4 separate regions of the Homo sapiens genome follow, and all the other regions are reported to be linked to region 1. Evidence: microRNA targets listed by miRTarBase, many of them from high-throughput screens and not tested one by one. Region 1 holds a microRNA gene; each other region holds the end of a gene's coding sequence.

Evidence for each region. Region 1 holds the annotated microRNA hsa-miR-652-5p (CAACCCUAGGAGAGGGUGCCAUUCA, at 2,390-2,414, shown strand). A microRNA usually pairs through its seed, bases 2 to 8, with sites in the 3' UTR of a target mRNA and lowers its output. Matches are read on the target gene's strand: a 7mer-m8 pairs with bases 2 to 8, a 7mer-A1 pairs with bases 2 to 7 and ends in A, and an 8mer does both.
Region 2: the mRNA of GDPGP1 is a reported target of hsa-miR-652-5p. Seed matches in the 3' UTR shown: 7mer-m8 at 5,269-5,275.
Region 3: the mRNA of GARIN1A is a reported target of hsa-miR-652-5p. Seed matches in the 3' UTR shown: 7mer-A1 at 5,141-5,147.
Region 4: the mRNA of ARSB is a reported target of hsa-miR-652-5p. Seed matches in the 3' UTR shown: 7mer-m8 at 3,784-3,790.

Annotation. Positions count from the first base shown.
Region 1 is chrX:110,052,960-110,060,080 of GRCh38, forward strand. MIR652 (microRNA 652) reads left to right here and starts at 2,370; the gene lies at 2,370-2,467. The region is part of intron 2 of TMEM164 (transmembrane protein 164); the gene reads left to right.
Region 2 is chr15:90,240,688-90,247,808 of GRCh38, reverse strand. GDPGP1 (GDP-D-glucose phosphorylase 1) reads right to left here. Exons shown (of 4, transcript NM_001013657.3): 4 at 1,998-6,909. The coding sequence starts at 6,900. The coding sequence ends at 5,743. It also overlaps a transcript of CIB1 not described here. Among named protein-coding and RNA genes, the nearest start is that of TTLL13, 5.3 kb to the left of the region's middle.
Region 3 is chr7:128,681,756-128,688,876 of GRCh38, reverse strand. It overlaps GARIN1A (golgi associated RAB2 interactor 1A), which reads right to left. Exons shown (of 5, transcript NM_001128926.4): 5 at 1,000-5,913. The coding sequence ends at 5,718. Among named protein-coding and RNA genes, the nearest start is that of GARIN1A, 13 kb to the right of the region's middle.
Region 4 is chr5:78,774,345-78,781,465 of GRCh38, reverse strand. ARSB (arylsulfatase B) reads left to right here. Exons shown (of 8, transcript NM_000046.5): 8 at 804-4,257. The coding sequence ends at 1,069. Among named protein-coding and RNA genes, the nearest start is that of LHFPL2, 130 kb to the right of the region's middle.

The DNA of each region.
Region 1 (7,121 bases):
CCAGGATGGTCTTGATCTTTTCACCTCATGATCTGCCCACCTTGGCCTCCCAAAGTGCTGGGATTACAGGCGTGAGCCACCATGCCTGGCCTACATGCATCATTTTTTAAAACAGTGATTAATGGAGTCCCCTTTCCCAATTTTTTAATACAAAGGTGTGGATGGGAGATTTGCAGCAAAGATAGGAAAGCAAAGATATAACCCACAATCTTTACTCTTGCCAACAGCTCTTACCTTCTTTCCCACCAAAATTTTCCTTTGATAAAATGTCTTGCTGAGAGTTAGGCTAACTCACCAACCAGCTTTAATTTTGGTTGACAGGGTGCCGTAGAAGACCTTTGCTAGCCAGACTGTGAGCTTCTTGCAGACAGGAATTATGTCCTGCATCACTGTGTGCTCAGAACCTCAGGAAGAACAAACTGATGTAGGCACCAGGAAATAGGTGCTTTTATTACATTCTCATTTTATGCCTTAGAAGCACTGCAAATGGTAGGTATTCTTATTTCTGTTTTAAACAATGAGAAAACTGAGGCTTAAGGAGGTGTAAAAAATACTTTCTTTTAAAAAAAATACACCTCTCCCCCACCATCATAAAAACCCCAACTTTGGCCATAGAGTTCATTGGTGGTGGAGCACTGCAAACATTAGCTGTCCCATGTGGCTTTGACTCTGACACAATTGGTCCTCTTGCTTCAGGGAACTGGATACCATCCATCCCTCCCATGGGTTGGCCTAGGCTCTGTTACTTCAGAGTTTTCTTGACGAGTTTCAAGGTAACCAGGTCATCCTGTTCTACATATTTTTCTGGGATTGAGGTCAAGGAGCAGCATGATCCTCTCTTAAATGGGTCAGAGGAGGAGGACTCCTGTGGCTCCCTGAAAGGTCAAGCCCCTTCATGCTAACTACACCGTCTTCCCTTCTCTTCCAGCTTATGTCCTGGGCTGGGCTCTGGACAGGGAGCAGAGGCAGATGTGCGCATGTGTTCTGGAGGACTTTTATATGTCCGATGGTGTGTTAGGCACTATGTGGAGTGGAGGCAGAGGGAACTCCAGAAAAGATAAATTATCTTATGGTGGAGACAAAAGGTAGTATTGGCAACAAACATGACCTCTGGAATCAGATAGTTTTGGGTTCCAGGCCTGACTCTTTGACTCACTTATTAGTTGTGCGACCTTAGGCAATTTATTTAACCTTTCTGTAGCTCAGTTTCCTTGTATGCAAACAGGAGGAAAATAATAATCTCTTACATAATAGGATTGCTATGAAGAATATATGAACTAATATGTGTAAGACATTGACTGTAGTGCCAGGCACCTAGTAAGCACTCAGTAAGGAATAACTACTGCCATTATTGTTGTTACTAACAACAGTATGAGACTAATAAGTGATTAGTGTATAAGTACCAACAAATACCAATGGAGTTCAGAAAAAGAATGCTTAATTTTTGTGACTTATCCAGGAAATCTCTAGAGGAGACAGAAGAAGTGGAATGAAATATTCCAGGTGGAGCAAATATGAAAGTGGGAGGCTGAACTGAACTGGAGTGGGGAACAAAAAGAAGAAACAAACGCAACATCTGGCACCCTTGAGCTCTACCACCAGCTCACCTGTTGTCACTACCAATATGTCCAGTCCTTTATGGCTCTCCATTTTGGAGTGCCCTGAATTACTGGCTGCAGTTTTGACTTGGCCAGCTAGTTGGCCAGCTGCTCTGACTGAGCTTGAGGGTGTCTGTGCCTTGGTGGAGTTGACACGGGTCCTAACTCTGCAACTTGGTTTGTAGGTTCAAAGCCTAATTTTTATCAGCTTACCCAGGGCTGTTGGTTTCTAGTGGATTGGGTCACACTCCCCAACATTACAAAACACTTCTTAATAAATCACCAGGCTGATAAGTCGATTGATGATGAGAGAGAGACCTTTATAGAGATGAGAACACTTGTGTGTATCAGCCCTTTCTGATATCAAGGTACCTGAAGCCAAATTAAACAGGGACTGTTTTATAACCTAAAATCAGAACCTAATGGAGTTGAAAAGTCTCATGAGCGAGACCATATAGGCTTTGGTAGTCCATGGAAAACTGTACCTTTTTGCATGTCTGTCATAGCTTTGTAGTGTGACCAGAATGTGTGTCCTGTTCTCTCTCCACTGCTGGAGAAACATCAGTAACAATTTTTCTCTTGGATGTTCCTGTTTTCAATTCCATGCAAATGCTGTTTGTGTGCTATGGCCATGCTATTCTCTTGAATTTCTTTTTTCTTGACAAGATTTTTGAGTTGCCTACTTCTCAGCGACAACATAGTGATTCTCTCATTGAGTGTTCTTTTTGGCTTTGTTCTCAAACACTAGGAATGTTTCCAAGCAGGGCCGCCACGAATGGCTATGCACTGCACAACCCTAGGAGAGGGTGCCATTCACATAGACTATAATTGAATGGCGCCACTAGGGTTGTGCAGTGCACAACCTACACAACTGTACTCGGCGGCCCTGGCATAATGTAATGTCAGTACTTTCTTCATCAAGGTACCAGTTTGGGATTGTCCTCAGGGTAAGGGGGCTGAAGCAGTGAGCTGCTGCTGTGACCAGGAAAGGAAGAAAGAAGTAAAGTTGTGGCTTTGGGAGAATTATCTTCTCTGTAAATGAGAGCCATCATATAGGAGAACTACGTACCTTCGTTCTTTCAGTAAATAGTTTTTTAAGTGCCTACTATGTGAGGGTTGAAGAACAGGGAGGGGTTTGCATAGGAGGGAGCATTTGAACTGGGCTTTGTGAAAGAAGTAGAATATTAACATGTGAAGATGAGTCAGGAGGAGAGAATCTCAGGGGGAAGGAATAGCGAGAAGAAAGACAGATGGGAGACCACAAGGGATATATGGGTAATGGTGCATAATTCATCTTGGTTGGATAGAAAAGCATGTAAAAGGGAGTAGTGAGCAATGATGCTGGTCGGGGGTCAAATGATGATGCAGGAGGGGAGGGAGTTGAATGCCCAATTAAGGAATTTGGACTTTTATTTATCAAGCAATAAGGAGCTATCCAAAGTTTGTTTTTTAAACAGCTTTATTGGGTTATAATCATATACCATATAATTCATTCATTTAAAGTGTACAATTGAATGTTTTTAGTATATTCACATATATGTGCAACCACCACCACAGTCAAATTTAGAACATTTTCATCATCCAAAAAATAACTCCATACGATTTAGCTCACCCCCCTCCCTACCTTTCCCCCACTCACCAGCCCTAAGCAATTGTTAATCTACTTTCTGTTTCTATAGATTTTATCTATTCTGGACATTTCATAGAAATTGAGTAATTATAATATGTGACCTTTTTCCACTGGCTTCTTTCACTTAGTATGTTTTCGAGATTCATCTGTGTTTAGCATGTATCAGTACTTCACTTATTTTTATGGCCAATTAATATTCCATTTTAAGGATATGCCACATTTTATGTATCCATTTGTCTGTTGGTGAGCATTTGGGTTGTTTCTGCCTTTTGGCTATTACAGATAATACTTCTGTGAACATCTGTAAGTTTTCAGGTGCACATAGGTTTTTATTTCCCTTGGACATAGGTTTTCATTTCCCCCAGGTATAGGAGTGGAATTGCTGAGTCATATGATAACTCTATGTTTAACCTCTCAAGGAGCTGCCAGACTGTTTCTCTAAAATGGCAGCATCATTTTACATCCCTACCGACAGTATAAAAGGGTTCCAATTTCTCCACATCCTCATGCACACTTGTGTTTGCCTTTTATATTTTGGCCATGCTAGTGGGTATGAAGTGTCATCTCATTGTGGATTTGATTTGCATTTCCCTGATGACTAATGATGTTGAACATCTTTTCATGTGCATGTTGAGTACCCGTGTGTTTTCTTTGGAGAGATGTCTGTTCAAGGTTATTTATCTTTTTATTGTTGAGTTTTTTTAATACTTTAGCTATTTTTAATGTATATATTTAAGGTTTTCAACTTAATGATTATATATATATATGGAAATCACCACAATCAAGATAACACATGCATTACATCATAGAGTTATCATTTATGTGTGTATGCGTGTGTGTGTGTGTTGGAAATACTTAGGATCTATTCTTATAGCAAATTTTAAGTATACAGTACAGTATTTTCACCTATAGTCGCCATGCTGTACATTAGATATCCAGGACTTACTTGTCCTGGAAAACTAAAACTTTGTACTTTTTGACTAACATCTTACTTTCCCAGCACCAGCCCCAGCTAACCATCATTTTATACTCAGCTTCTATGAGTTAGACTAATTTACATTTCATATTTATGTGACATCATAAGATATTTTTCTTTCTGGCTCATTTCACTTAACATAATGTCCTTTGGGTCCTTCTGTGTTACTGCAAATGATAGGATATCCTTCTTTTTAAAGGCTGGATAATATACCACATTTTCTTTATTCATGCATCCATCGATGAACATTTATCTTGTTTCTATATCTTTGCTATTGTGAATAACGGTGCAAGGAATATAGGAGTGCAGATATCCCTTTGAGATCTTGATTTCAACTGTTGGATAAGTATTCCAGAAGTGGGATTGCTGTGTCATAGAATAGGTCTTTTTTTTTTTTTTTTTTTGAAACTATACTATTTTTGATAATGGCTCTATTGATCTCCATCAGCAGTTTTCCAGGGTTCTGTTTTCTCCACACCCTTCCCAATATTGCCATCTTTTGCATTTTTTATAATAGCCATTCTGACAAGGGTGACATGAGATCTCACTGTGGTTTTCATTTGCATATCCCCAATGATTAGTGATGTTGAGCACCTTTTCATATACCTGTTGTCCATTTGTATGCCTTCTTTGGAAAAATGTCTATTCAGATCCTTTGCCCATTTTAAAATTGGGTTATTTGTATTTCTGCTATTGAGTTTATGAGTTCTTTACATATTTTAAATATTGACATCAAATTTGTGGTTTGCAAATATTTGCTATATAGCTTTTTAGGTTGATGTAGTCCTAATTGTTTTTGTTTGTTTGTTTTTTACTTTTCTTGCACGTGCTTTTGATGTCATATTCAAAAAATCATTGCCAAGACCAATTTCAAGAAGTTTTTCCTATGTTTTCTTCTAGGAGTTTTATGGTTTCAGATGTTACATTTAAGTCTTAAGCCCATTTTGAGTTGGTTTTTGTGTGTGGTGTAAGATAAGAGTCTGATTTCATTACTTTGCGTGTGGATATCCAGTTACCCCAACATCATTTGTTCAAGCAAGCATCTTTTCCCCCATTGTGTATTTTTGACCCTCTAAGGTTCTTTATTCCTTTTCATCCTTTTTTTTCTTTTTCTCTTCTGATGAGGTAATTTTAAATAACTGTTCTTCAAATTTGCTGGTTCTTTCTTCTGCTTGATAAATCTCCTGTTTTTAGTTGAGTCATTGTATTCCTCAGCTCCAGAATTTGTTTGGCTGTTGTTTACAGTTTCTATCTTTTTATTTAACTTTTCATTTTGATCATACATTGTTTTCCTGATTTCATTGAGTTGTCCATCTGTTAATTTTCTTTTTTATTGTTGAGTCTTAAGAGCTATTTATTCTGAATACTAGACTCCTATTAGATACATGATTTGCAGATTTTTTCTCCCATTCTTTGGGTCCCCTCCCCTCCCCTCCCCTTTCTTTCTTTTTTTTTTTTTTGAGACAGAGTCTCACTCTGATGCCCAGGCTGGAGTGTGCAGTGGTGTGATCTCAGCTCACTGCAACCTCTGCCTCCCTGGTTCAAGCACTTCTCCTGCCTCAGCAGGAGAAGTAATCCCAAGTAGCTGGGATTACAGGCATGTGATGTGCCACAACGCCTGGCTAATTTTTTTTTTTTTTAATTTTTAGTAGAGACAGAGTTTTGCTGTGTGGGCCAGGCTGGTCTCAAACTCCTGACCTCAAGTGATCTGCCTGCCTCGGCCTCCCAAAGTGCTGGGATTACAGGTGTGAGCCACCATGCTCAGTCTGGGATGTCTTTTCACTTTCTTAATAGTGTCATTTGAAGCATGAAATATTTTAATTTTGGTGAAGTACAGTATATTTATTTTTTCTTTTGTTGCTTGTGCTTTTGGTTACATCTTAGAGTCTGTTACCAAATCCTAGGTCATGACATGTATCCCTATGCTTTCTTTTACAAGTTTTATAGTTTTTGCTCTTACAGTTAGGTCTTTGATTTTGAGTGAATTTTTGTATATGGGTTATGAGGTAGGGGTCCAACTTAATTCTTTTGCCTGTGGATAACCAGTTGTCCCAGCATCATTTGTTGAAGAGACTGTTCTTTCTACCATTGGATGGTCTTGATACCTTAGTCAAAAATCACTTCTGAGGATTTATTTCAGTACTCTCAATTCTATTCTGTTGGTCTCTGTGTCTTTCCTTAGGTTAGTACCACACTGTCTTTGTTACTGTTGCTTTGCCATAAGTTGAAATCAGGCTGTGTAAGTCCTCCCACTTTTTCTTTTCAAGGTTGGTTTGGCTGTTTGGGGTCCCTTGCATTTCCATATGAATTTTAAAATCAGCGTGTCAGTTTCTACAAAAAAAAATGTCAGCTGGGATTCTGATACGTACTGTGATGAATCTGTCATTTAAAACTTTCAAGGAGGAGTGTAACAGGATCAGAATGCTATTTTAAGAATAGGAACCTGACAATACTATATAAAATTAGAGCAAGCTTGTCCAGCCTGTGGACTGCATGTAGCCCAAGACAGCTTTGAATGCAGCCCAACACAAATTCATAAATTTTCTTAAAACATTATGAGATTTTTTTGCAATTATTTTAAAAAGATCATCAGCTATCATTAGTGTTAGTGTATTTTATGTGTAGACCGAGACAATTCTTCTTCCAGTGTGGCTCAGGGAAGCCAAAAGATTGGACACCCGTGAATTAGAGTGATGAAGGAAAAACACTGGATACTTGGAGATCAGATAGGAAACTGCTGTAGTAGTTTAAGAAAATGATAGGGACCAAACTAGGAAAAGATAGTGAGGGTGGATTTCAGATGTATTGAAAAGGTTGGGCTGGGTGCAGTGGCTCACACTAGTAATCTTAGTGCTTTGGGAGGCTGAGGTGGGAGGATCACTTGAAGCCAGGAGCTTGAGACCAATCTGGGTAACAA
Region 2 (7,121 bases), not on the chromosome of region 1:
AACGGAGATCGCGCCACTGCACTCCAGCCTGGGCGACAGAGGGAGTCTCTGTCTCAAAAAAAAAAAGCAAACAAAAAAATCTTTGATGGAATTATAATTTCTCTAGAAATCTGCATATGCCTTCTTTCCCGGTTCAGCCACAGCAAATGTATAGAGTGCTACAACCCTCTATACAGGGATACAGCAATGTGAAACCAGAGGTCATGCATCTGAGGTTTCATCAAAACACTGGAAGCCATGGTAGTTATTGTCCTTGATAGGTATGTCAACCTCAACACCAATGTCCTTCCTGGCTGATGGAGAAATGGGCTGCCCGATTCACAGACTTCTTGATCTTTCCTCAGCATATGATACTCTCATATGAAACTCTCCTCCTGGCTAGGAGTGGCAGCCTACATCGCTAATCCCAGCACCTTGGGAAGCTGAGGCAGGAGGATTACTGGAGGCCAGGAGTTTGAGACCAGGCTGGGCAATACAGCGAGACTCTCTCTCTTAAAAAAAAAAAAAAAAGAAAAAAGAAAAGAAAAGAAAAAAAAGGCCAGTGTGGTGACTCATGGCTGTAATCCCAGCACTTTGGGAGGCTGAGGCAGGTGGATCACGAGGTCAGGAGTTCGAGACCAGCCTGGCCAATATGGTGAAACCCTGTCTCTACTAAAAATACAAAAATTAGCTGGGCATGGTGGCGCACGCCTGTAGTCTCAGCTATTCAGGAGGCCTAGGCAGGAGAATTGCTTGAATCCAGGACGCAGAGGTTGCAGTGAGCCAAGATCGTGCCACTGCACTCCAGCCTGGATGACACAGTGAGACTCCGTCTCAAAAGAAAAAAAAAAAAGGAAAGAAAGAAATGGTCCTCCTGGAAATGTTCTGCAGTCCCTTGACTTCCAGGACACTCATTGCATCAACAAACAATTTAGTGTTCTAGGGACTATTCTAGGACCTCGACCACCATTTCTTGCCTGAATTGCCACAATTCAGCAATTTTTTTTTTTTTTTTTTTTTTTTTTTTTTTTTTTTTTTTTTTGAGACAGAGTCTCACTCTGTTGCCCAGGCTGGAGTGCAATGGCTCAATCTCGGGTCACTGCACCCTCTGCCTCCCGGGTTCAAGTGATTCTCCTGCGTCAGCCTCCTGAGTAGCTGGGATTACAGGCATCTGCCACCACACGGGGCTAATTTTTGTATTTTCAGAGAGATGGGGTTTCACCATGTTGGTCAGGCTGGTCTCAAACTCTTGACCTCAGGTGATCCACCTGCTTGGGTCTCCCAAAGTGCTGCTGGGATTACAGGCGTGAGCCACTACACCTGGCCTCAGCAGTCTGTTAACTGGATTCCCTGATTCTATTCTTCACTCCATCCATCCTCCCCATTACAGCGTAAGTATTCTTCCTCAAATGCAAAGCTGTTACTCAAATGCAAAGCTGTTACCCCACATTAAGTATTCTTCAAGGTTTCCCATTAGATCAAGTCTAAACCCTCTTAGTACATGAGGCCCTGCATGAAGAGTTCTGATTATCGTTTTTTGTTTTGTATTTTTTTTTTGAGATGGAGTCTCGCTCTGTCACCCAGGCTGGAGTGCAATGGCACGATCTTGGCTCACTGCAACCTCTGCCTCCTGGGTTGAAGCGATTCTTCCGCCTCAGCCTCCTGAGTAGCTAGGATTACAGGCGCATGCCACCATGCCCGGTTAATTTTTGTATTTTTGTAGAGACTGGGTTTCACCATGTTGGTTAGGCTGGTCTTGAATTCCTGACCTCCGGTGATCTGCCCGCCTCGGCCTCCCAAAGTGCTGGGATTACAGGAGTGTGCCACCGTGCCCGGCCTCTGCATGAAGAGTTAAGCAAAAACGTGGGGAGGTCCTGGGCTGGGTCAGCACTTCCTACCATACTCAAAGCCCAGGGCTCGGAGTACAAAGGGCCCCTACGTGTTTCCTACTCAGTAGAAAAAGCTGCAGTCCAAATGCTCTTCTTGAAGATTCACAAAGCATATAAATAGCTGAGAAATACCACCAGAAAGAAAACCCATTTTACTTTCCCCTTTTTATATGGAGAAACATATTTGAGTCAGGGAAGGCTTTCCTCTAAACATCAGTCCTACGGAGAAACTGGGAAAATCCTGATATTTGGCTTATCACTTTGAACGCAAAATCCACTTTGCTGTAATGGTCATCCGAACTCCCTTCAGAGAGCAAGCAAGCAAAATTAAGTGTGATACTGGAGCTTATGCATGCAAAAGCTTGCAAAAAGTATTAAGGAAAAATTACTGCAGTTTACCAAAAATATGAGGGTGGTCAACATTTTCTGATAGAATGGTAAACTGTTTTTTTCTTTTTTTTTTTTTTTGAGACAAAGTCTCTCTCTGCCGCCCAGGCTGGAGTGCAGTGGCGCGATCTCGGCTCACTGCCACCTCCGCCTCCCAGGTCCAAGCGATTCTCCTGCCTCAGCCTCCTGAGTAGCTGGGACTATAGATGTGCACCCACACCCAGCTAATTTTTGTGTTTTTAGTAGAGACGGGGTTTCACCATGTTGGCCAGGCTGGTCTTGAACTCCTGACCTTGTGATCTGCCTGCTTCAGCCTCCCAAAGTGCTGGGATTACAGGCGTGAGCCACCGCACCTGGCCTAAACTGTTTTTCTTATAAAATGGGCTATGGACACATATTCTGCTTTATCACAGGGAGACTTTGTAACATCATTTGGGATGTAAAACCTCTAATGAAAACTGGAAACTAAGGCTTTATACAGGCCTAGGTATAGGGAGCCAACGACCTGAAGGCCTAAGCCAGGGCTAGGACCCACAGTTTGGGAGGCAGAGAAATCAAAACCCCTCCTGGGTGAGCCCACTCAGACAGCAGCCAGAACCCACCTGTGTGAGCCCCCTTTCACCCTTACGCTGTGAACAGGGACTCTCATTCCTTCAGGATGTTTGATGAAGGAGTGGTGGCGGTGATAATCTCTGTTGAGAGCTGGACCCAAGACTTTATGTATTTATTTATTTTGAGACTGAGTCTCGCACTATCGCCCAGGCTGGAGTACAGTCGTGCAATCTCAGCTCACTGCAACCTCCGCCTCCTGGGTTCAAGTGATTCTCCTGCCTCAGCCTCCCAAGTAGATGGGATTACAGGTGGCCGCCACAACGCCTAATTTTTGTATTTTTAGTAGAGATGGGGTTTCACCATGTTGGCCAGGCTGGTCTCGAACTCCTGACAAGTGATTTGCCTGCCTCGGCTTCCCAAAGTGCTAGGATTAAAGGTGTGAGCCAACGTGCCCAGCCAACCCAAGACTTCTTTTACTTTTGCTGTATAACATTCAAGGGAGCTAAAAGGAAAATGAGATTTCACACCCACATACTCTCTTAGAATAGTGTCTACTGACTAGTTCCTCTGGAACCAGTGTGAAATGTCTGGAGAAACAGGACAGAACAAAGCAATGAGATAAAAAAAAATTTCCCACATTGACTCAGATGCAGACGGAGGAACAACGACTTAGCTTTGGATTTTGTGTCTACATCAAGAGGAGCTTCTAAAGTGCTTGGGAAAGACCCCAAGAGGGATGGCTGAGGCTCAGGGAGGGCAAACTGTTAAGGACAGTGCTACCCACCATGGGAACCACTGACTGGAGAGGCGGTCACAAGCACACATTGTCCCAGCTCATCTTCTGGTACCTGCCTGTGCTGCAGTCCCGACTCCAGCTGCCTGACCTTGAACAAAGTACAAACTGTCAGTCTCCATCCCGTTTTGAATGGGGGTATTAAGAAGACTCAGGCTGAATTGCTTGAACCCAGGAGGCAGAGACGCAGTGAGCCGAGATCACACCACTGCACTCCAGCCTGGGCAACAGAGTGAAACTCTGATTCAAGAAAAAAAAAAAAAAACTCAGGCCAGGTGCAGTGGCTCATGCCTATAATCTCAGCACTTTGGGAGGCTGAGGTGGGAGGATCTTGAGGCCAGGAGTTCGAGACCAGCCTGGGCAACTTGGCAAGATGCTATCTCTCCAAAAAAATAGCCGGGTGTGGTGGCGCATGCCTGTGGTCCCAGCTACTAGGGAGGCTGAGATGGGAGTATTGTTTGAGCCCAGGAGGTTGAAGCTTGCAGTTAGCTGTCTTCATACCACTGCACTCCAGCCTGGGTGACAGTGACCCTGTGTCAAAAAAAAAAAAAAAAAAAAAAAAAAAAAACCTGCACCAAGGTGTGGTGGCATCTTAGCACTCTGGGAGGCCGAGGTGGGAGGATTTCTTAAGGCCAGGAGTTTGACAGCAACCCGGGCAACATAGCAAGACCCTATCTCTACAAAAAATTTAAAAATTAGCCAGGTGTGATGGTGCACACCTATCGTCCCAGCTACTCAGGGGGCTGAGGTGGGAGGGTGGCTTGAGACCAAGAGTTTGGGTCTGCAGTGAGCTGTGATTGCACCACTGCACCCCAGCCTTACAAAAAAACAAAACAAAAAAAGACGTGCACCCGGAAAGTTGTGACAACACTGTGTTTTTACATCAGATGATGTCAGTGAAGAGCATTCAACTTGGTGTTGGGGGCTAGAGGAAAGCTCAAGGTGGCAGGGAAAGTGAAGGAGTGGGGCATTTGGGTGGAGCAGGGCTAAATGGAAAGAAGGGACAAAGCAATAAAAATAAGTGGTGAGCAAAGGGGAATAAACAGGCTGAGAACAGAAGTGGCAGCTCAATACTGGAGGCACAGGCACTATTACCGTGCTAACATTTGATATCAAAGGAAGACAAAATCTAAATGTAAAGTCAGGAGTGTGTAACTGTCACACACACTCCTTTTTAACACCCCTGGGGCTTGAACAAGAACGGGGAGAGGTAGCAGATACATTCATGATGTCTTACTCAGTAGAATTATTCCAGATTTTCTCCCCTTTAAAGAGACCACTATCAGCTCCCCTTTAAAGAGACCATTATCTTTCTCCCCTTTAAGAGATCATTATCAGCTTTCTTCATCCTTCTTCTTAGGCTGAGACAGGTGAGAAGGCAGCCATGAAAATAAATGTCCAAAGGACTATGATGGACAGTGCTCTGGAAAGGGACTCATCAGGTAGAAAATGAATACATCCTGGCTGGGTGTGGTGGCTCACGCCTGTAATCCCAGCACTTTGGGAGGCCGAGGCGGGCGGATCACCTAAAGTCAGGAGTTCAAGACCAGCCTAGCCAATGTGGTGAAACCCCTTCTCTTTTAAAAATACAAAAAAATTAGCCGGGTTTGGTGGCAGGAGCCTGTATAGTCCCAGCTACTCGGGAGGCTGAGCCAGGAGGATCACTCGAACCCTAGAGGTGGAGGTTGCAGTGAGCCGAGATTGTACCAGTGCACCCCAACCTAGGTGACAGAGCGAGACTATCTCAAAAAAAAAAAAAAAAAAAAAAAAAAAAAAAGAAACAGAAAAGAATCCAGGGGCTCACTCCTGTCATCTCAGTACTTTGGGAGGCCGAGGTGGGAGGACTGCTTCAGCCCAAGAGTTCAAGACCAGCCTGGGCAACATGGTGAAACGCTGTCTATATAAAAAAATACAAAATCACCTAATCGTTAAAAAAAAAAAAAAAAAAAAAAAAAGCCAGGTGTGTGGTGGTGCACGCCTATAGTCTCAGCTACTCAAGAGGCTGAGGTGGGAGGATCACTTCAGCCCCAGAGGTGGAGGCTACAGTGAGCCAGGATCATACCACTACACTCTAGCCTGGGGACAGAGTGAGACCCTATCTCAAAAGAAAAGAAAAAAAGAACATAAATACATCCAGAAGTATTATTGCTCTTCCTGGGACATCAGGGCCACCAGTGCTGCCTGTACGTCTTCTGCCTGGGATGGGGGCAGCCGACAGTCCTGAATGAGGGCCACAGCAGCTGCCTCTGTCAGGCTGCTGAAGTCCTGGGATGTTTTGACAGGGAGGTGCCCAGCCAGCTCACAGAGGGCAACATTGAAAGCTTCACCGTCCTTTATCCCAAAGCTGGACTTCCGGGCCCACAGAATTACTCGGACCCCTGTGAGGGCTGAGGAAGGTGATGTCTTTCCCGGCGGAGCTCCCCGGGTGACAAACAAGTTATGAGCAATCTCATGGTCAGTCAGATAATCAGTGGCCCGACATACCCTGCTTATCAAGGACTCCAAGTCAGGCCCTGGCCCACGAGTGTAAAAGAGGAAGCCAGGAGCTGGGAGGTCCTGGAGCAGATGCAAATGGCCTCCAGGGTCCAGGGGCTCGCTTGGCGCCTGCTCCACGGGCAGTCTGTGGGCCAGGTAATAGCCATGCAGGTGGAGGTGGTTCACCGAGGCCAAGCCTCCCAGGCTGTTGAAGCCGACACGGAAGCCCGGGTGTAAGCTCAGCAGCACAGCCTCAATCCCTGCCCTCAGTGCACCCGGCAGCAGGCGCTGGGGGAGCTGGCGGGCAGGCTCAGGCACCAGCAGCACGTGGCCCCACTCCAGGGGGCTGACGTTGATCACCACCAGGATGTCTTCTTGCAGCAGAGTCCCAGGGAGATCAGGCTCCCGGTGCAAACGGAAGAGGACTTCTCCGGGCCGGATCTTGTTGAAGTTGAACTGTACAGGGTCAAATGCCTGCCTCACACTCTTGATGGTCTGCGGGGGCCTCCTCTGCACACCACGCTCCACATTCAGCTGAGCCACGAAACCCACAGCACCAGGGAGGATTTGGGTCTGTAGCTCCCGTAGACGGTAGCGAAACAGCCCCAGCTCCACCCGCTGCTTCCAGGCAGAGCAGAGTGCAGCATCAAAGGGAGATTGTGGCAGAGCATCTGGGATGCCAGGTGCATTCCTTGGCCACTGAATCCCTTCTGCCATGAGATCCTTCTGCCCATAAACAAAGTCAGGAATGGTTTGCCTGCCCCAGTCCTCATTGTTGGGAGGCAGCAAATAGGAAGTTTCGTTTGAATCATGTGGAAGAGCCATAGAGCTGACCTGAAATAGTCATAAAAGATGAAAACACATGATGGTAACCCACCTCCAGAGATTGTCATTGTATTTATTTATTTATTTTTTTTTTTGAGATGGAGTCTCACTCTGTCACCCAGGCTGGAGTGCAGTGGCAGTGATCTTGGTTCACTGTAACCTCCGCCTCCTGGGTTCAAGCGGTTCTCCCGCCTCAGCCTCCTGGGCAGCTGGGGTTACAG
Region 3 (7,121 bases), not on the chromosome of region 1:
TGGCGGCAGCACAGTCCAGCTTCGGCTCGGCATCAGAGGGAGACGGTGGAAAGAGAGGGAGAGGGAGACTGTGGGGAGAGGGAGGGGGGAGGGGGAGGGGGAGGGGAGGGGGAGGGGGGACCGTTATTATTAAAAGCAAAAAGATGGTTCTACAGAATGGGGGCAGAGAGGAGTAGGAATGGTACTCAGAGGAAACTGAGATGCCTCTTTACAGCTCTTGCCCAGTCAAAAGAAGATCACACAACTCTACATGTGCAAAACCATCAAGGGCTTAGGATTTTCAGGAGTGAAAGTTTGTGGACTCCCTACCAGGGAATGAACCCAGTCAAAGCAAGAGGTACCTGGAATGGTAGTATAGGAGGGAAGTAAGAAATGACAACTACTACTGACTTGTAACCAAGAAGCAGAAAGAACTAAAACTTCCACCTGTATTTCTTTCTTTGCAGTGATGTATGTTATTTAAATTAAATCCTTCTCTCATTTTGTGCATAGGGTATGCTTGTGGCGTTTATATTTACTGTTTGGTCTAGAAGTTTTGTGATACAAAGGTAAGGAAGAAACCAGGGGGGCCAGGCGCGGTGGCTCACGCCTGTAATCCCAGCACTTTGGGAGGCCGAGGTGGGCAGATCATGAGGTCAGGAGATCGAGACCATCCTGGCCAACCTAGTGAAACCCCATCTCTACTAAAAATACAAAAATTAGCTGGATGTGGTGGCGCGTGCCTTTAATCCCAGCTACTCGGGAGGCTAAGGCAGGAGAATTGCTTGAACCTGGGAGGTGGAGGTTGCAGTGAGCCGAGATCACTGCACTCCAGCCTGGGCGACAGAGCAAGACTTCATCTCCAAAAAAAAAAAAGATTGTATGTGGGTTTGGACAGTGTCCGAGAAGAATCTAGGTCTCATAGAGGATGTCAAGGCGTAACAATACTCTAAAAAAATGACTAGGCAAGCAAGCAGGTTGATTTACCATGATCACATAGGTGCCCAAAGTAGACAGAGATTCAATGAACCAAAACAGAATAGTTTATTGCCAACAGCAAACAGCCAGAGCACCAGCATGGCAGTACCAGTTGCTCTGTCCCCCAGCAATACAAGGGGCTTTGCATACAGCTGAGGCACCCATGGTGAAGGGCTCAGTAATTTTTACAACAAACAGTAACCAAACCTGTCTCCTCCTCCAGAGACAGAGGACAGTTAGGACTTGAAATTTGACACGCTTAGCAAGGATGTGTAGAGATGCTCAAGGCCCATGGTGGAGTACCTCTTCCAACAGAGAGCAAAGAGACTGCCATGGAAATTTGTTATTATCAGCCACCAGATAACCGTTCCCCTAATGGTCTTCTTGTAACACTCCTCAATTTCCTTTGGGGAAACCACCTAGCTTGCTGCAGCATTTGATGAAATGGTCAATTCACTACCCCTATCTGAATTCACAGAGCTGTTCTGGTGTCAGAGCATTCCAAGATCGGCTCCGCAGTTGTCCCTTTGATTTTGTGAGCCAACCCACATCCGTCCAATGAATTCCTTTTGGTTTAGATTAGAGTCAGCTTCTCTTACTGGCAACCAAAGAAGTCTAACTGACATAAAATGGCATCTGTTATGACAGAGTTCACAGTTCCACCAAGGAGACAGACATGTAAACAAATAGCCACAATTGGGTGAGAAATGCTATAAAAATGCTATAATACAAGGCACATGTAAGGCACAATAGTAGCATTGAAGAAATCCATCAATAAGGATAAGTGTCATGAGGGCAATATGTGGAGAAAGTAAGCAAATGTATCTCAGGTAGAACAAAAGTATATACAATGTCCTCAAAGTATCTTCAAACATGGCGCATTTAGGGAACCACAAGAAATTTGGCATGGTGGGAGCATAAGATTCTATGGCAGCAGTGGCCAGTGGAGAGGCTGGAGAGAGAGGCAGGGGTCTAGTCATTTCATGTCAAAGGGTCTGGTTTTATTAAGGAGGAAACTCAGTCAGATATATTTTTTTTTTTTTTGAGATGGAATCTTGCTCTGTTGCCCAGGCTAGAGCGCAGTGGAGTGATCTCGGCTCACTGCAACCTCTGCCTCCCCAGTTCAAGAGATTCTCCTGCCTCAGCCTCCTGAGTAGCTGGGACTACAGACGCGCACCACCACACCTGGCTAATTTTCACATTTTTAGTAGAGACAGGGTTTCACCATGTTGGCCAGGCTGGTCTCAAACTTCTGACTTCAAGTGATCTGCCCACCTTGGCCTTCCAAAGTGCTGGGATTACAGGTATGAGCCACCGTGCCTGGTCCTTTCTGTCAGATTTATGTGTCAAAAAGTTGCTCTGTTAGAGGTATGAAAAGGGAATGAGTTGGGAAGACATTGGAGAGGCATCAAGAGTAATTTGGATTTTGGAGTTAGACAGACTGGCTTCAAGTCCTGGCTCTGCTACTTACTACCTGTGTGACCTTAAGCAAGTTCTTGAACCTCTCTGTGGCTCCGGTTTATCATTTATAAAATGTAATAATAAGATCTACTTCTCAATGGCTTGTGGTGTGGTTTATGTGATCTTTGTAAAGTCAGCATAGTGCTTAGAAGATAGCAAATTTCTAAAGATGTTAGCTATTATGATGATGATGATGATAAAGTCTGGGAGACCAATTGGGGTTACTATTTTACTTTATTTTATTTTGAGACGGAATCTGGCTCTGTCGCCCAGGCTGGAGTGCGGTGGCGCCATCTCTGCTCACTGTAACCTCCACCTCCCAGGTTCAAGAGATTCTTCTGTCTCAGCCTCCCGAGTAGCTGGGACTACAGGTGTGCGCCACCATGCCCAGCTAATTTTTGTATTTTTAGTAGAGATGGGGTTTCACCATATTGGCCAGGCTGGTCTCAAACTTCTGACCTCGTGATCTGCCCGCCTCAGCCTCCCAAAGTGCTGGGATTACAGGCCTGAGCCACCATGCCTGGCCTGGGGTTACTATTAATACAATAGTCTAGGTGAGGGCTGATGAAGGCTTAAACCAAGACAAAGAAGTGGGGATGACAAGCCTTTCAATGTTTATAAGTATGCCATATAGATAGGATGGCCACATGATTTGTGATTCACTGAGGGACACTTCTCAGAGTGAAATGGGTATGTATTAATAATGATACCAGGACAACAGGCATGCATTTGGAAGTACAATCACCCTGCACATTAGTCTTTTCTAAGTTCAGCTTCTAGATGTCCCTCACCAGCACCAACAATGCTCAGCTTATTTGATTGTAACATACTGAAAGGAAACTTGTTTTTAATTTTACTGGAGGCAAGACAAAACCAACAAGCATCAGGCATCCTCTTAACTCAGATGTCTTTTCTGACTCAATTCAGCCAGATTTGACTGCTCAGCCCAACTGAGCATGCACAAGAGGAGGGCAACCATGTTCTTTCTTTCTGCACCACATAGGATGTGAACCACACATGCTGGAAAGCAGGGCCTCCAGCTTTCATTTGCAGACTGGGTGGCTCAGACATCAGGTCAACATTAATGGCTTCACTATGTCTCCAAAATAGGACTTGGCATCTCTCCCAGACCCTCCCTCAAGGCAGGTAACTTGTCCGTCTGTCTTGTTCTCTCCAATATACTTAGCGTCAAACGCAGTGTCTAGCACCTAGCAGGAGCCTGACAAATACTTATTAAATATTGGAGTGGGCGTGGTGGGGCTGGGCGTGGTGGCTCATGCCTGTAATCCCAGCACTTTGGGAGGCCGAGGAGGGTGGATAACCTGAGGTCAGGAGATCAAAACCAGCCTGGCCAACATGGAGAAACCCTGTGTCTGCTAAAAATACAAAAATTAGCCGGACTGGTGGTTCACACCTGTAATCCCAGCTACTTGGGAGGCTGAGGCACAAGAATCGCTTGAACCTGAGAGGTGGAGGTTGCAGTGAGCTGAGATCACACCACTGCACTCCAGCCTAGGCAACAGAACAAGACTGTCTCAAAAAAAAAAAAAAAGGAGTCATGGTATTTTCCTTGTAAGTATTCCCTATGTGTATAAAGGTTGGCCAAAGCTCCTACCCCATTCCCAATACTCAAAGATGCCATGTCTTCCAGTTCACTTTCATTAGGTTCTGGGTAAGAAACAGTCAAATTAATCAGAATTTCTGGTGATGGGCAGTCAATATCTTCCTCACCATGTTTTCATTAGCAATGAAATGTTGTATGAGCCAGGGGAGCCTTCATAGCTTTACACTAACACAGGGCAATGAAGACCTAATTTATTCTTTTTTTTTTTTTTTTTTTTTTTGAGATGGAGTCTGGCTCTGTCACCCAGGCTGGAGCACAGTGGCATGATCCCAGCTCACTGCAAGCTCTGCCTCCTGGTTCAAGCAATTCTCCTGCCTCAACCTCCTGAGTAGCTGGGACTACAGGTGTGCACCACCACATCCAGCTAATTTTTGTATTTTGGGTAGAGACAGGGCTTTGCCATGTTGGCCAGGCTGGTCTCGAAGTCCTGACCTCAAGTGATCTGCACACCTTAGCCTCCCAAAGTGCTGGGATTACAGGCAAGAGCCACCGCGCCCAGCCAAAGACTCAATTTCTTGCTTGATATAGTGGAGCAACACAAAGGAATCTTCCAGCTGGTTACCATCCTTCTCAGGATTTCTTTTATTTTGGGCTTGCAGTAGCTCAACCTCTATTTCCCCCTGCCCCTTTGAAAGTTGATTTCTCCTCAGAGGCCCTTTCCAAGCCAGCCTTGGACTGGCTTTCTTGGCTTTGCTTGGCTATTGTGTGGTTTCAACTGAGCAGACTGATATATGATTTGGATCTGTCTCCCTGCCCAAATCTCATGTTGAATTTAATCCCCAGTGTTGGAGGAGGTGCCTGGTGGGAGGTGATTGGATCATGGGGGTGGATTTCCTCCTTGCTGTTCTCATGATAGTGAGTTCTCACGAGATTTGGTTGTTTAAAAGTGCATAGCACCTCCCACTTCTTTCTTTCTCCTGCTCCAGACTCGTAGGACAGGTCTGCTTCTCTTTTGCCTTCTGCCTTGATTGTAAGTTTCCTGAGGCCTCCCCAGTCATGCTTCCTGTACAGCCTGGGGAACCATGAGCCAATTAAACCTCTTTTCTTTATAAATTACCCAGACTCGAGGCTGGGCCTGGTGGCTCACGCCTGTAATCCTAACCCTTTGAGAGGCCAATGTGACTGGATGGCCTGAGCTCAGGAGCTGGAGACCAGCCTGGGCAACGTGGTGAAACCCCATCTCTACTAAAATATAAAAACTTAGCCAGGTGTAGTGTGTGCCTGTAGTCCCAGCTACTTGGGAGGCTGAGGCTGGAGAATTGCTTGAACCCAGGAGGTGGAGGTTGCAGTGAGCCATGATCGCACCACTGTACTCCAGCCTGGAGACAGAGCAAGACTCTATCTCCAAAATAAATAAATAAATAAATAAATAAATAAATAAAATTACCCAGTCTCAGGTAGTTCTCTGTACACACAGACAGTAACTTTTCCCACCTATTTTTCCAAAAACTGCTCCTGTTCTCAGTCAGTCCTTTCCCAAACTGGAGCCTCCCTATAGCCCAACCTGCAAAAATTAGGGACTCACTTGGAAGTTTATTGGTGGAAGTAGAGAAGCACCTTGTTGGAAACACCATCTTACCTCTCCCAAGGTCACTTGGCTCACAGTGGAAAAGGAGCATTATAAGAGGTGGTAGCAAGTACACGTATGCAAGGAAGAGCATGTTTTGCCTAGGTGTCAGGCTCCCAAGAAGTGCTCTCCTAGGTAACTGGCTATATGAACTTGTAGAAGGTGCTCATTCCAGTCCTCTTGTTCCCAGAGGCTGTGGCTCAAGGCAGCTCTCATGGGTATATTCAAATTGATTGGAGATGCCACTGGAGAGGGTATCTTGTAGCTGCTGCAGTTGTCTATTTCAATGGCAGTGTCATTGTTCCTGTAGGAGCCCAGGGAATTTTGGGGTTATTGAAAGCAATAGAAGAAAAAGAAAACATTGTTAAAATTTAACTTAAAAACCACTTTCAGCTGGGTGCAGTGGCTCACACCTGTAATCCTAGCACTTTGGGAGGCCGAGGTGGGCGGATCACTTGAGGTCAGGAGTTCAAGACCAGCCTGGCCAACATGGTGAAACCCCGTCTGTACTAAAAATACAAAAATTAGCCAGGCATGTGGCACACGCCTGTAATTCCAGCTACTCGGGAGGCTGAGGCATGAGAATTGCTTGAACCCAGGAGGCGGAGCTTGCAGTGAGCAGAGATGGCACCACTTCCAGCCTACGTGACAGAGTGAGACTCCTTCTCAAAAAACAACACAAAACAAAAAAAACCAACTCACTTTCTAATCATGCCTTTTTCCAGCTCCAGTGCTTTAAGGACATGTAGAAATATGGAAATGTGGGGCAGTGACAATATGCACACATGCAATAATGTTAAGGGCAACCCGAGGAGAGAAAGCCACAGAGGAGGAGGAGGGAGCCTGGAGCTAAGGCCTGCCCTGTGGAGGAACAAACAACTCTTCAAACCTTAAGTACTGCTTTGATGTGTTGAGAATATAATGTATTATGACTCAAAGACAAAATCCCGGGGACTAAAAATTTAAGATCAGAGAAGTGAGAGTGAGCTGGGCTGCCTGAAGGGATTGCCAGCCTTGGTAACCAAGGGCTTGGGTTGTCACGTGGGGAGAGAGTCCTTTGTAAAGAGTTGCTGGCTCCTTTTCCTTAAGCTGAAAGAGAGAGCCTTCCTTGGACAACCCAGGGGGCTTGAGCTGTGGCTCTAGGACTCTGGGAGAAGAGTTGTTTCTGTGCCTAGGAAGCAAGGTCCTCCTCTCCAATGGCTGGTCAAAATATGAGAGGATGATTCCTGAGGACCAGATGTGGACTGTATGAGAGAGAGCAAGCAAGTGTACACCAGCCTGGAGCCACTGTAAGCCTTACCCAGGAGGACTCCTTAAAGGGGATAGCTAGTGCCTGGGGGAGCATGGTCCCTGCAGAGCCATGGCCAGGGGGGTTGTGGGGGGGGGTGCAGTGTGGCCAGATGAAAGGGAGGTGTTGCAGTTGAGGGGCCAGAAAGGAGATTTCAAAGAACCCAAGAAAGCTCCTGGCCAGCTGTGATGGCTCATGACTGTAATCCCAGCACTTTAGGAGGT
Region 4 (7,121 bases), not on the chromosome of region 1:
CCCAGTGGATCATCAAGGAGAAGCTTACCGAAGTAACAAATGCCTTTTGCAAAACATATCTCTGGGGCTGCTGAATGAGGAGATAGGAAGAAATGGTTTAACCTACTCGTCCTAACCAAAAAAAAAAAAAAAAAAAAAAAAAGAGAGAGAGAGAGAAAGACAGAGAGAATTAACTGTAGCAGGGGTGAAAGGAAGAAATGTCACTCTTATGCTTCATGGAAAATACGGATTTTAAATATATGTGGCTATCAAGCACAGCACATTTAGCTAACAAAGAGAGTCTCTGAGAGCTACACCCTCAACCAGTGGTATAGCTGGGGAAGGAGGTTGCTCCTCTGATTATATTCTCTAAGAGTGATATCTTTTCAATACTTTTAAAATATGTGGGATGATGGTTAAGGCTGTGATGTAATTAATCAATGTTTACAATGAGAACATTTTTGGCGTTTGCAATATGACAAGTCTTTTTTGACTGGGATTGTCCCATGTATTGCAAGACTTTAGCATCACTAGCTCATGCCCACTAAATGCCAGGAGCACCCCTATGCCCTAGTCCTTGTGACAAGGACATACACACATGCACACACGTTTCTGGGTGTCCTTGCTTGTGAAGCAGTGAGACATGTCTAGTTAAAGCACCAGAAGTCAAGTCTGAGAAGCATCTAGAGACAGCATCTAGGGCCGCATCTTTTTATGTTTCCACACCCACAACCCAGTGCAGCCTTGGCCTCAGACTCCTTCCCTGAAATTAGAACCTGCCTCTGTGCTTCTCCCTCAGTAAACTGTTTTGTTTTCTTTGCTAGGCTGTGGTTACTGGTTCCCTCCACCGTCTCAATACAATGTTTCTGAGATACCCTCATCAGACCCACCAACCAAGACCCTCTGGCTCTTTGATATTGATCGGGACCCTGAAGAAAGACATGACCTGTCCAGAGAATATCCTCACATCGTCACAAAGCTCCTGTCCCGCCTACAGTTCTACCATAAACACTCAGTCCCCGTGTACTTCCCTGCACAGGACCCCCGCTGTGATCCCAAGGCCACTGGGGTGTGGGGCCCTTGGATGTAGGATTTCAGGGAGGCTAGAAAACCTTTCAATTGGAAGTTGGACCTCAGGCCTTTTCTCACGACTCTTGTCTCATTTGTTATCCCAACCTGGGTTCACTTGGCCCTTCTCTTGCTCTTAAACCACACCGAGGTGTCTAATTTCAACCCCTAATGCATTTAAGAAGCTGATAAAATCTGCAACACTCCTGCTGTTGGCTGGAGCATGTGTCTAGAGGTGGGGGTGGCTGGGTTTATCCCCCTTTCCTAAGCCTTGGGACAGCTGGGAACTTAACTTGAAATAGGAAGTTCTCACTGAATCCTGGAGGCTGGAACAGCTGGCTCTTTTAGACTCACAAGTCAGACGTTCGATTCCCCTCTGCCAATAGCCAGTTTTATTGGAGTGAATCACATTTCTTACGCAAATGAAGGGAGCAGACAGTGATTAATGGTTCTGTTGGCCAAGGCTTCTCCCTGTCGGTGAAGGATCATGTTCAGGCACTCCAAGTGAACCACCCCTCTTGGTTCACCCCTTACTCACTTATCTCATCACAGAGCATAAGGCCCATTTTGTTGTTCAGGTCAACAGCAAAATGCCTGCACCATGACTGTGGCTTTTAAAATAAAGAAATGTGTTTTTATCGTAATTTATTTCCCCCCAGCCATTGCTCACTCTGTCTAGACTTCCTGCCACTTCCAATTCTTCTGTGGCTTTTCCTGCCTTTCCTTTTGACCTCAGTAGTCCTATCCCTGGGAAGGCCACTTTGCTTCTCTACCTGAGCACCCCTGATTTCTGGAACGCTGCTGAGCCCTGCCTTACTTTTGCCCCTAGGGCTGAAGCTAGAGGCCTCCCCGTAATAGGCGGTGGAGTTGCTCTGTGAGGATGTTCATGGTAGACACTAAGAGGGCTGGGTGGGAGATGCTTGGCTCTGTGGCATCTGTTCAGCGAGGCTTTTCCTATATTGCATGGAGTTAGTCATTGTGATTGTAGCTTTATTTCATAATATATTAAGACTTGCACTGCTATTTACTAGCAGTGAGAAGAAACCTCAGGAAAGGATATGAAAAAGCAAGTGGCCAGTGTCTGGGATACTGGGCCTTGGTAAAGCAGAGGAGGGCACACCCACAGTCCTCTTATTCTCTGTTTTACTGCTTGTTTTGAGGTTCTGGGGTCTGGCAAAGAGGATGCAGTTTGACACCTGCAGCCCTTTCTCAATCCCACTAATGTCTTACTAATGTGGAACAGTCCATATTAGCTCCAGAGAGTGTCAAACCCAGAGAAATGTGTGCAAAAATGATACTCTTTTCTGCATTAGCCCCACCATTGTGTTCACCAATGCTTGGAACACTGCCTGAAGGCACTCATTTTTTAATTTTTATTTTATTTTTAATTTTTTATATCTTTATGAGACGATCTCACTCTGTCACCAGGTTGGAGTACAGTGGTACAATCACAACTCACCGTAGCCTCAAACTCCTGGGCTCAAGTGATTCTCCCACCTCAGGCACCCAAATAGCTGGAACTACAGGCATATACCGCCACACCCAGCTAATTTTATTTTTTGAAAAGACAAGGTTCCCTATGTTGCCCAGCTGGTCTTAAACTCCTGGGCTCCAGCAATTATCCCAGCTTGGGCTCCAAAAGTGCTGGGATTACAGGCATGAGTCACCATGCCTGGCCTCATTTTTTAAAACAAATGAATAAATGGACAAATGAGTAAATGAGAAAGTCTCACACCATGAAAGATGCTAGTCCAATGAGCTGAATACAGAGGTAATATAAATGTCTTCCAGCTGTTGCTTTTCTGTTCTCAAGCTGCCCCTCCTGGGGTAGGAGCATAATCTACATCACTGGGCAGTCACAGGACACTCTATAGCAAGGTTGTAGCGTCCTCTCCAGTGGGGGGAGAAAAGGAACTGTGCCTACCAAAGGTACTCTCTTGTCAGCAATTTCCATTTCTATACTTTATGGGACACTAGAAACTAAAAGCAACAAATAATCTGATATAAGTCCTTGTATAGTCATCCTTCAATTCAGTAGCAATATTTTCTGGTCACTACTAACCTGTATTGTATTAAAATGAGACTATTGGAAGGAAATGGTGCTAAAACTAATAACATCTCTTACCAACCTTTACCCAACTCCTGGGTTGGCAAACAGCTGACCAAACTGCCATCACCTCCCACTTGGAAGTGTATGGCCGACAGCATGAAATAGCTGAGCCCAGATGTTCCTTCTGCATCCTCCGAATCCCAGGGCTGGGTGTAGGTAGCCGTTGGAGGCCATCGCTACAGGGCACCTATCTGTTATCGCTGCTGTCCTCCCAACAGCTGTCTCCAGTTCTAGTTCCTTGGTTTTCAGGCACAGTGGGGGATGTTCTGCACCCAGTGGACTTCAAAAGAGTTTTGAAGACTTAATTTTTTGTAAAACAAGTACTTGAGATTTTGGTTTATCCATAATAGAATGTATTTCATTAGATTCTCTGATTCTATATAAGAATGTGAAAAGATTGATATATTGTTGTTAGAAATAATGTTATTTCTTTCCAATTTTTTTTTTTTTTTTTTTTGAGATGGAGTCTCGCTCTGTCACCCAGGCTGGAGTGCAGTGGTGTGATCTCGGCTCACTGCAGCCTCTAACTCCCAGGTTCAAGCTATTCTCCTGCCTCAGCCTCCCAAGTAGCTGGATTACAGGCATACACCACCACGCCTGGCTATGTTTTGTATTTTTCGTAGAGATAGGGTTTCACCATGTTGGCCAGGCTGGTCTCAAACTCCTGACCTCAAGTGATCCACCCACTTCAGCTTCCCAAAGCACTGGGATTACAGGTGTGAGCCACTGTGCCCGGCAAATTTTTTTACCTTTACAGAAGGTTTTGCTTATTTAATTGTGAGCTCATTTTTCTTTGTTACTTTTGTCCCCCCAGATTTGGGGGACAAAATAAAATTAATCTTTTAAAATGTGTCAGCCATATGTATGGGGCTTCCATTTGGGGTGAGGAGAAAGTTCTGGAACTAGATAGTGGTCATGGTTATACAACATCATAAATGCAATTACTGCCACTGAATTGTATGTTTTAAAGTGGTTAAAATGTTAAGTTTTATGTTTTATTACAATTTTTAAATGTGTCAACCAACTTTATAGTACATAAATTATATCTCAGTAAAGCTGTTAAATAAATAAATATAGTAAAAATTTTAGAACTAAAAAAAGTGTCAATCATTGCCCTAAGAATATAAACTATAAAATAAGGTATTAGAGGGAGGTCAAGGAAGGGTAGGAGTGAAAACAAAGTGACAGTAAAAGAGAGTATTAGCTCTCTATTGCTGCGTAACAAATTACCCCAAAACTTAGCAGCTTAAAACAATAAACATTCATAACTTCACACATTCTATGAGGGTAAGGACACTGGGAGTGGTTTAGCCCAGTGGTTCTGGCTCAGGGTCTCTCGTGAGATTGTTGTCAAGCAGGCCTGTGGTCATCTGAAGACTTGAGTGGGGCTGCAGGCTCCACTTTTAAGCTGACTCACTCACAAGGCTCTTGGCTGGAGGCCTCAGCTCCTTGCCATGTGGGCATCTCCACAGGCTGCTTGGATGTCCTCACACATGGCAGTTAACTTCCTCCAGAGCAAATAAACAGGGAGCCACAGGGCCTTTCATGACCTAGTCTCTAGAGGTGTACACTGTCACTTATACCATTTTTCTATTTGTTAGAAATGAGTCACTAAGGCCAGCCCATATTCTAGGGGAGGAAAATCTTACTTTTCAAAGGGAGTGTCAGATTTGTGGACTTATTTCACACCACATCAGAGGAAAATGGTCTCGTTTAGCCTCCTGGGGAATAGATTGTCAAGTCCACATGCATTTATCAAATGCTGCTGTTTGAAAAGAGATGGTAGAAAAAGCATTCAACTTTGCTATTTAGCAGTAGACTAACCATGAACAAATCACTTCATCCTCTCTGTGCCTCGGTTTTTTTCCTGGTAAAGTGATGAGTTGAATTAGATAATTGCTAAAGTCTCATATCCCTAGTGTCCAGAACAATGCCTGGCACACAGATATTCTATAAATGTTGGTTGATTGGCTCTCAAATGACTGAAATCCAATGGGAGGATGTGAAATAATACTGTGCTAAAAAAAATAGCCTGAGATTTTCTAAACTCATTTCCTAAATCTCATTTTCTGAAAGTATTCTAATAAAAGCTGCTAATTTTTTTGAGTGCTTACTATATGCCAGGCATTGTACTAGCTGCTTTAAAAAGAGTATCTTGTTTAACATAATTTTTTTCTTGCCTCTTTTTTTTTTTTTTTTTTTTGAGACAGGGGTCTTGCTCTATCACCCAGGCTGGTCTCAAACTCCTGCACTCAAGAAATCCTCCCACCTCAGCCTCCCAAAGTGCTGGGATTATAGGTGTGAGCCACCATACCCAGCCTTTAATATAATTTTTAAATAACTGGAAGTAATGTTTACATTCATTCAATCTTAATTGTAAAAGGCTTACTTGGTTTTCATCTCTTCCATTTTTTCAATAGCCAATCTTTGTTCAAGTGTAAAATGATTTATGTCAAGAAAATAACCAAAATGGGCTTGTAAACATAAACATTTGTGAATAAAACATTTTAAATGATGCAGAGGAATTCACTATTTGAAGAAACCTTTTTGTAAATCTTTTTGTAAATGCAAATTTTTGCTTTTGTATTTCCAAAATCTAAATACATTGACTTCGGTTTCCTAAATTGAGGTTTTGCTGCACAGGTTTTCCTGAAGAAGGATTCATACCCATGTATCAGGTGCTGGGGAGGAGGTATAGTGACCAGAGAAATGATACAAACAAAACTAAAGGCATGGCCCCTGCACCTAAGAGGCTTACAACCTAATTCTATGATATAAAGTTCTTTTCAGCTTAAGTGTTTTTAAGAAAATTGGCCAGGTGCAGTGGCTCACACCTGTAATCCCAACATTTGGGGAGTCTGAGGCGGGAGGATCGCTTAAGCCGAGGAGTTCAAAACCAGCCTGGGCAACATAGTGAACCCCCGCCATCTCTACAAAAAAATTTAAGAATTAGCTGGGCATGGTGGTGCATGCCTGTAGTTCCAGCTACTTGGGAGGCTGAGGTGGGAGGATTGCCTGGGAGGTCGAGGTTGCAGTGAGCCATGATCACACCACTGCACCGCAGCCTGGATAAGAGTGAGACCCTGTCTCAAAAAAAATTAAAATAAAATGCCAGCTGTATTAGTCCAGGTTCTCTAGAGGGACAAGACTAATAGGATAGATGGATATATGAAAGGGAGTTTATTAGGAGAATTGAGTCACATGATCACAAGGTAACGCCCCACAATAGACTGTCTGCAAGCTGAGGAGCAAGGAAGCCAGTCCGAGTCCCAAAACCTCAAAAGTAGGGAAGCCAAGAGCCTCTGGCAAATCAAAGGTATAGGTCCAAGAGTCCAAAAGCTGAAGAACTTGGAGTCTGATGTTTGAGGGCAGGAAGCATCCAGCACGAGAGAAAGATGGAGGCCAGAAGACACAGCCAGTCTAGTCCTTCCATGTTCCTCTCCCTGCTTTTATCCTAGCTGCACTGGCAGCTGATTAGATGGTGCCCACCCAGATTGAGTGTGGGCCTGCCTCTCCCAGTCCACTGACTCAAATATTAACCTCCTTCGGCATCACCCTCACAGACACATGCAGGAACAATACTTTGCATGCTTCAATCCAATCAAGTTGATACTCAATATTAACCATCATACTGGCCGATACTAAATATATTGAAATAATTATTATCCTTTGCAGTGACCACTTAAACTTTAAATCCTATTTTTTGTTCAAGTAGAGAATAGTCATACTGTGTATAGACTGGTTCCTGCTGAAAAGCCCTGACCATCCCTGCTACCCAGGTGGATTCAGATGGTATAGAAGTAACCACCACGTCTCTTGTACCTTTGCCCTGGTGCCATGGGAGCCACCGCCAGGATGGCAGAAGAGGAGAGCGGCAACTCCCTGGGCCTGACATCAGGGATTTGTGGCCATCAGGAAGCTGGAGAGATGTTTTCATTCTCAAACTAATTCACCAAAGTCACCA